Regions from separate parts of the Homo sapiens genome. Here region 2 is linked to region 1. The links come from fine-mapping of genetic effects on gene expression. A gene starts in region 1. The other region holds a variant in brackets. All regions are shown on one strand. Distances are from middle to middle.

Region 1 (4,530 bases):
CTCACATGGCCCACTCAACAACTTTTCTCGCTCTCTGTAGGCAACACTGTCTCCTCCTTAAATTGAAAATCAAGGCCACCTAAGACACTACCCAGGCCTGCTCTTCATTCATTCATTCATTTAATAAATATTTACCAGAGCTAACATGGGCCTGCACGGTACAGATGTGAGACATACAAGAATGAGAGCCAAGCGGCCATGGTCTCTGCCTTCATGGATCTCAGTCTACTGTTAAGTTACACATTAAGCAAAAATTACACAAATTATTGCACACCCTGAAAGGGGCTAGGAAGAAGAATCCCTGGTGCTGCAATTTTTGTGTTTTTTTTGTTTTTGTTTTTGAGACGAAGTATCACTCTGTGGCTCAGGCTGCAGTACAGTGAGGCGATCTCAGTTCGCTGCAACTGCCACCTCCCAAGGTCAAGTGATTCTCCTGCCTCAGCCTCCTGAGTAGCTGGGATTACAGACGCATGCCACCACGCCCGGCTAATTTTTGTATTTTTAGTAGAGCTAGGGTTTCACCACGTTGGCCAGGCTGGTCTCAAACTTCTGACCTCAGGCAATCCGCACCTGGCCTCCCAGAGTGCTGGGATTACAGGTGTAAGCCACTGTGCCCGGCTGTTTTTTTTTTTTTTTTTTTTTGAGACAGAGTCTTGCTCTTCGCCCAGGCTGGAGTGCAGTGGCTCAATCTCAGCTCACTCCAACCTCCACCTCCCAGGTTGAAGCGATTCTCCTGCCTCAGCCTCCCAAGTAGTTGGGACTACAGGCATGCACCACCACGCCCCTCTAAGTTTTATATTTTCAGTAGTGACGGGGTTTTGCCATGCCTGCCTCAGCATCCCAAAGTGCTGGGATTACAGGCGTGAGCCACTGAGCCCGGCTGTTTCTTTTTGTGTGTGTTTTTTTTAATGAAACAGGGTCTCGCTCTGTTGCCCAGGCTGGAGTGTAGTGGTGCAATCACAGCTCTCTGCAGCCTCTACCTCCCTTCAGGGCCCAAGCAATTCTCCCACCTCAGCGTCCCAAGTAGCTAGGATTACAGGCCTGAGCCGCTAATTATTTTCTTTTCTTCTTTCTCATTCTCTCTCTCTCTTTTTTTTTTTTTTTACCATGTTGCCCAGGCTGGTCTTGAACTCCTGGACTCAAGAGATCCGCCACTCTGCCTCCCAAAATGCCGTGATTACAGGTATGAGCCACCACACCCAGCAATGCTGCAAGTCTTATGGGCCAGGATAGTGTAATCTAAGAAATGATATATGAAGAACTCTCACAATAGGGAAGAGGTGAGGAGTGTCCAGGCAGAGAGAAGAGCATTTGCAGAGGCCCTGGGCGAGAAGAAACCTGCATCCTTTAAGGACCTAAATGAAGCCAAGCAGGCAGAGGCTAGATCACACATGGGGGCTTCATGCCCACCTTAAGTAGTTTGGGTCTTTAAAAAAGGAATGAGACTCATAAAGAGGTTTTAAGGAGCGAATGCTATTGCTGCCATGAACAGATATTCCTTCCCCATAGCTGCAGAGCAGGCACAGGGCTGTTTTTGCCCGCCAGTATGTCCCCACCGTCTAGCCCAGAGCGGGGCCAGCGGCCGGCTCCTACCCACACTTGCTGGCAGGAAGACTGGACGCACTGCGGGACATGGTGATGTCCTGGGTTGGGGCTGAGGAAGGCCTATGCGCGGAGGGTGCGGCCTTCGGCTAAGGCAGAGGACCAGGGTTGGGTCCGTGGCGGCGGGAGGGGTGGCCTCCTGCGCTGGTCGCCCCAGGGGACCTGAGAGGCGCGACAAACAGTCGGCGCGTTTGGTACTCGCGCCTGCAGAGCTTTCAACCTCCGCGCCGGCTGCGCCTGTTTCTCGGCCAGGGGAGCAAGGCCACGCGGCCTACGCAGCCGAGTCGGAACCAACCGGTTGTTTGGTGAAACCTACCCCAGAGCCTCCCGCGGCCCACAGAGCACAGGTGAGGCAGCAGACCGGGTGGGGTCGGTGTCGCGCCTGCGCCCGCCCGGACGCCTCGGGCCCGCCCGCTCCGCACCCTGGAAACCCCTGCACTCAGCCCCCCGGCGTCCCCACGCTCTCGGCCCTGCTGCGCCGGCGGCGGCCATCTCTGGGCGGCGGCGGCGGGCGGTGTTTGCGCGGTCGGTGAGACCCGCGCGGGTGAGACGCTGGGTGAGTTCCGGACGCTTCCAGCCGGCCCGCCGGTGATCCCAGACCTCGGGGCGGGACGCGGCTCCCGCTCACCGCCGGCAAAGGTGGAGGTGCGGCGGGGCGCGGGGCGCGGGGCCAGCCCGGGGCGGTGCGGGGGCGTCCCTGCCTAGCGAGGCCCTGCCCCGCGACCTGCCGCACCCTCCTCCGGCCTGTTCGCGACCTCTAAAGATAATACTTCTCACTGTCGAAAACGTGGAACAGAAAGCAAGGAAGCAAGCAAAGCAGCCGTGCCGCTGCTCCCCAGAGACAAGCTGCGTTAACATGAGGGTGTATATTCTTCCAGATGGTTTTTCCTTGTAACATGAGCGGGGCTTGTTTTTGCAGAACCTGCATCATAAAGTGCTGAAACTCTCTCTCTCTCTCTCTCTCTCTCTCTCTCTCTCTCTCTCTCGACTCTCTCTCTCTCGACTCTCTCTCTCTCTCTCTCGACTCTCTCTCTCTCTCTCTCTCTCTCTCGACTGTACATTCCTGTGTGTCAGGTTGACTACCTCATCCATCCCTGACTCTTGGCATGGCTTTGGACTGTGATTTACTAAATGTAGTTTCTCCCTGATGGTGAGCGTACAAGTGGTTTTCAGTTTTTAGTTATTGCAAAAAGTAATTCATTGAGCATCGTTGTATCTGGGTTTTTGAGCGTGATCATTTCTGTAGAAAGAATCGCACAAGATTCGTTCTAAAACAAGATAGAATCCACGGTCTATACCACAAGGCTTCTGGTATAGATTGTGAAATGGCCCTCAGAAAAGTTATTCTCCTTTTTGTACCTCCAGTAAGTAGCATTTGGGAATACTTGGCTCGAGGAGCTTCCTGAGTGATTTTACTGGAGACCCCCCTCACTTCATAAGGGGCCGGCCCGGAGATGAAGATGTCAACACTTGAGTGTGACTTGCATTATTGGCTGGCCCTACCTGGGGGCCTTTGCTGAAAAGGGAACCATGAGCATCTTAGTAACTACTATCATCTAGTAATTTTTAAACTGACTTCGGTTTATCTTGAACGAACCATTTCAGTCCCCAGTAAGAATAAACCTAAGTTAAGGCAAAATTCAGGTGGATTAGATGAACAGTGGCAACGTGTTGGTGTTTAAGTCATGCTCTGAAACTTAGGTGTTGGGTTGCTAGGGAAGGGATTTTAAAAGATTGATGGGTACGTATGAGATACGCAAAAAGCTTTCTTTAAAGACATGTAAAAAGTTTCAAGTGCTTGGTATCATCTCCATCAGTGAAAGTAAGTGGAATATGGTTTTTCATCTTTTTAAATTTACATTTTAATAAAATATTTGCAAAAATAGAGGGTTTTTTGTATTTATCATTTTCCAGTTTGGTCATAGAATCTTGAAAATTAAGTACATGCATAAGAGTTTAAAAACAACAGTGGATTAATTTCTTGCTCCCAAGTTTCATTTTTTTATTTTTCAGACAGAATCTCCCTCTGTCACCCAGGCTGGAGTGCAGTGGCATGATCTCGGCTCACTGCAACCTCCACCTCCCGGGTTCAAGCGATTCTTGTGCCTCAGCCTCCGGAGTAGCTGGGATTTACAGACGTGCGCTACCATGCCCGGCAAATTTTTCTATTTTTGCAAAGACAGGATTTCACCGTTTTGTCCAGGCTGGTCTTGAACTATTGACCTCAAGTGATCCGACCGCCTTGACCTCCCAAAGTGCTGGGATTACGGGGTGTGAGCCATCGCGCCTGGCCACTTTCTCCAAAGTTTTAAACCAAAGCCTTCTTCGGCAGAGCTACGACCCTTCCTCTATGGCCCATTCTATCCTATGCTGCTTCCCTTTATAAGGACACTCCCACTGTTGTGCTATAATCATCTCTTGGTATCTCCGGACTCTGCCACTCTGAGGTTAGTGCCCTGCCCAGAGCCTGGTACATAAGTACCCAATAACTATTGGTATGCTGGATGAACTTAGAATATGACATGTGTTTATTAAATTGAATTTGTAACTTAGAGATCTATGTGACAGATATTTCTGAGTGAAGTGGAAATTGGGGACAAGGACAGATGTTATCATCTTTTGGTTACAGGTGCAGTTGCATCCCAAGAAACACTACAGCCAGGACACCTGCATTTTTTTTTCTTTTTTTGTTTTTTTTTTTAACAACGTTACTGAAATATAACTCACATACCATAAAATTCACCCATTTAAAGTATACAATTCTTTCTAATATAATTAACTTTTTGAAGTGGTAAAATATATACAACATAGATTTGCCATTTTAACAATTTTTTAGTGTACAATTCAGGGGCATTAAGTACATTCACAATAGTGTGCGATCATTGTCACTATCTATTTGCCAAACTTTTCAATACCTTAAACAGAAAC
Region 2 (4,000 bases), 130 kb after region 1:
CAGGTGTGAGCCACCAAGCCCAGCCTAAGCATATGAGAATTTTAAATCACAATACAAAAAATAGCTATCATTAACTGAACACCTAAGTACCTAAAGAAATGAGTTAGATGATTATTGTATGTTACAGCTAATCTCATTACACTCATTTAACATATTAAAGAAATGAAACTCAGAAGGGTTAAGTTGCACACCTAGTATCTGTAAAACCTAGATTTAAACCCATTTGTCTAACACTAAAGTCATACTTCAGCCATACTTTCAGCTTGGCTAGAAAAGCTGAATACGTGGTTCGCATGTGGCAGATTCACACTTTCTATGGATCCCTGAGATGGCCCCTTTCCATCACAGAGCTCTAGGCAAGTATTACCAGCCGTCTTCCCATCAAAAACCTACCGATCATCCCAGTTTGATGTTCTATTTTCACAAAACTAGAATGACTCTCCAGAGGCATATAAGAAAAGGGGTGATTATTCATATTACCAAAGATTCCTAACAAAGTGAATAGGAATCCAATGTATTCCTCAGAAGAATGAATTTCCTATACAGATCCAGAGTGTGATTCAATGTATCGTAATTCAATTCAGAACCATTAAAAATACATTTTTGTCAGAGAAAAAAAACTTCCAGAATGTCTCTCAGAAGTTATATATGATATTATGATAAATATATTCATCCAAAAACTTTTCACTATGAAAGATCCATTTCTCTCACATTCCTTTGCCTACACTGTATATTCTCTCTCTCTCTCTCTTTTGTACAGGGTCTCTCCTGTCTAACCCTGCACAAAAACACATACATGCTTCTGTTTTTCTTTATAATAATAGAGGATAATGCTGGTAAAATATACATTCTCCTTTACACCTCTTAAGGTAAAAAGAAATGTTAAATTAAAGAAACAGAAATCTACTTGAATGATGGCAGAACATGAAGAAAAGTCAGTACTTCTATGTTGCCCACCAAGCATTTTTCATCTTGTTTCTTCTTATGGACTAGAGTTCAACAGCTTACTATCAGAATACCACAACTCCCAAAGCTGTGCACATAAGTTATAACTGCTCCTGGACCTTATATGTACTAAACCACAAAAATTGAGGGCCACACCAGAAACCTGAGAAGAGGTGTAACATCATGTTATCTGCTAATAAATTGCAGCTCCATATTCTCAAACACATATTACTTTATAATTGGCATGCCTATACCCCTCTTGTTTAAACAACAACAACAATAATATCACAAAATAACAAGACTTTCCTAAAATTCTGTAACTACTAACCTCTAACTGGGCACTTATAATAATATTCCTTACATAATGACTATTTTTTAGTCTCCAAGATATTTCAACAAAAACATCTTCAAGTTACTTGAAGGCAAAGCCAAGGACCTAGTCTTTAAACAGTATACCTTATAGGGAGAGGGGTGCTGCACTGCACATAGCATATTTAAACTCCACTTTACTCCAAAAATAATCTGGGGCAATTCAGTGCCGTATAGAAGCATATTCTCAAAGAATTCTTAATTAAATGAAAATAAATAAATACCCGAATGATTAATAAAGGCTTTTGAGAATGGTCAAACCTAATGCCTGCAAAATTCTTGCCATTCATGGAAGTAACAAAAAAGGGGCAAGGGAAATTCCACGCATAAATATTTCAGACTGGAATTGAAAAGTTTTCCTTTAGTTAGCTAATGGATAATCACAAATAAGTTTTTATACAATTCAATGGATGACCATTTAATCGATTTTTAAATACTTTACCTCCCCCAGAATATTTCACGTTTATACTATATGATGAAATAGAAAGCAGCTATAAGTGTTAAAAAAATTCATAATGATATAAGACAATAATTATAAGGCTAACTAAAACAATCAAAACAGCCGAATGAGCCGGGCACAGTGGCTTATGGCTGTAATCTCAGCACTTGGAAAGGCCAAGCAAGTTGGGCGGATCACTTGAGGCCAGGAATTTGAGACCAGCTTGGCCAAGATGGTGAAACCCCATCTCTACTAAAAATACAAAAAGAAGCTGGGCATGGTGGCGCACACCTGTAATCCCA[A/G]CTACTCGGGTGGCTGAGGCACAAGAATTGCTTGAACCTGGGAGATGAAGGTTGCAGTGAGCCAAGACTGCATGCCACTGCACTCCAGCCTAGGCGACAGAGCAACACTCTGTCTCAAAAAAAAAAAAAAAAAAAAAAAAAAAAGCAAAGCAGAATACAAACATATACATACACATATTTGTCTGTACAATCATTATGCTAAAATACAAACATAACTGCAAAAAGTGACAAAAACATGCCAAAAGGGTAACAATGATTATCTCAGAGGTAAGTACTATTATGAATATTTACTATTTAATACTGTATAATTTTCTGTATATTCCAAATGTTCCAGTGTGGGAACACATTTTTAAAGTCAGAAATAAAATATATATATATATATATATACTCATAGACTTTTCTGGTAAATTAATAGTTAATATACATACCTGGAACTGAATTAGTGGATGATCACCAAAAACATATTCTACTCTCCCGCTGACTTGCAACACATAATCATAGGGGCTAACTTCATCTTCCTTCCCATGAATAGTCAAACGTTTTTGGATTGCCAATTCATTTACTTTGATAGGATTCATATTAGGAGACACTTGAAAGCTAAACACGTCCTGAAGGGGGAGGGAGATGGGGAAAAAAGCAGTAAATGTTATATTTATGCTGAAAAATCACATTACAATCATTATGTAATAATATGTACAAATGTACATAATATTTATATGGGTACATCCTTAACAAATTTTATATGGATGCATATTTAGAATGTAGACAAGTTTACTGAAAGATAAAGATTTCTGATAATTTGAAAGTCATCTTACTGTATTCATAGTGCACAGCTTCCACAGGTAAGATTAATATTTAACTAAAGGTTACCATTAGGCATTTTCCAATGAACATCTCATCTTTTTTTTTTTGAGACAGAGTCTCACACTGTCCCCCAGGCTGGAGCGCAATGGCTCGATCTTGGCTCACTGCAACCTCTGTCTCCCAGGTTCAAGCAATTCTCCTGTCTCAGCCTCCTGAGGAGCTAGGATTACAGGCGTGCACCACCACGCCTGGCTAATTTTTTGTATCTTTAGTAGAGACAGGGTTTCACCATGTTGTCCAGGCTAGTCTCAAACTCCTGACCTTGTGATCCGCCTGCCTCAGCCTCCCAAAGTGCTGGGATTACAGGCACGAGCCACCATGCCCGGCCACATACTGCAGCTATATTTTGTATATATATTTTTAAAAACTTACACATTTCTCACTGGTAAGAAGACAGCCATACTTTATACGAATTAAACCATAAATTAGCAATTACGTCCAATTTTAGAGACATGTAAATAGAAACATATAGAAATTCTAATCAATTAAAAATGAAGATATAGTTTGGAATCGATATAGCATTACCAAATCTGTTCATCATAAGACTGAATGATACAGTTAACACCTGAATCCTCTCATAATCTAGCAAGGTAATTTTTCATTATATGATCATATACTAAAGATATAAGAAGCTATCTCCCAAAGCAACCAACTGCTACTCTGAACAACTAACTTATTGCTATTCTCTATACTGACCTGACATCAATTCCATAATATTTTCCACTAATTTAATTTAAATAAATCACTCCCCTGAATTTAAGATGTCTTACATTCAAACTTTTAAAAACTAAACTTACTATTTCACATCTATTTTTTCCAGTATTTTACTTGTTCTTCTGTGTTTTCTATGAGTTGGTGCCTGCCATAGACTGAATGTTTGTGTCTCCCCTGGCGAATTCATATGTAGAAACCTAATCTCTAATGTGATGATATTTGGAAGTGAAAACTTTGGGATGTGATTAGGTCATGAGGGCAGAGTCCTCATGAATGGGATTAGTGTCCTTATAAAAGAGACCCCAGAGGCCGTGCACGCTGGCTTACATCTGTAATCCCAGCACTTTGGGAGGCCGAGGTGGGCAGA

What was found. PIP is the estimated chance that this variant, and not a neighbour inherited with it, causes the effect. A credible set is the group of variants that fine-mapping cannot tell apart.
Region 2: its variant is the best candidate, but not a certain one, in a credible set for the expression of FAIM in whole blood (TOPMed, PIP 0.55).

Annotation. Positions count from the first base shown.
Region 1 is chr3:138,606,989-138,611,518 of GRCh38, forward strand. FAIM (Fas apoptotic inhibitory molecule) reads left to right here and starts at 1,783. Exons shown (of 6, transcript NM_001033031.2): 1 at 1,783-1,949. RefSeq lists a silencer at 1,871-2,330 and an enhancer at 2,431-2,520.
Region 2 is chr3:138,735,224-138,739,223 of GRCh38, forward strand. It overlaps PIK3CB (phosphatidylinositol-4,5-bisphosphate 3-kinase catalytic subunit beta), which reads right to left. Exons shown (of 24, transcript NM_006219.3): 6 at 2,484-2,663. Among named protein-coding and RNA genes, the nearest start is that of PIK3CB, 98 kb to the right of the region's middle. The variant A/G (reference allele first, on the strand shown) is at 2,056.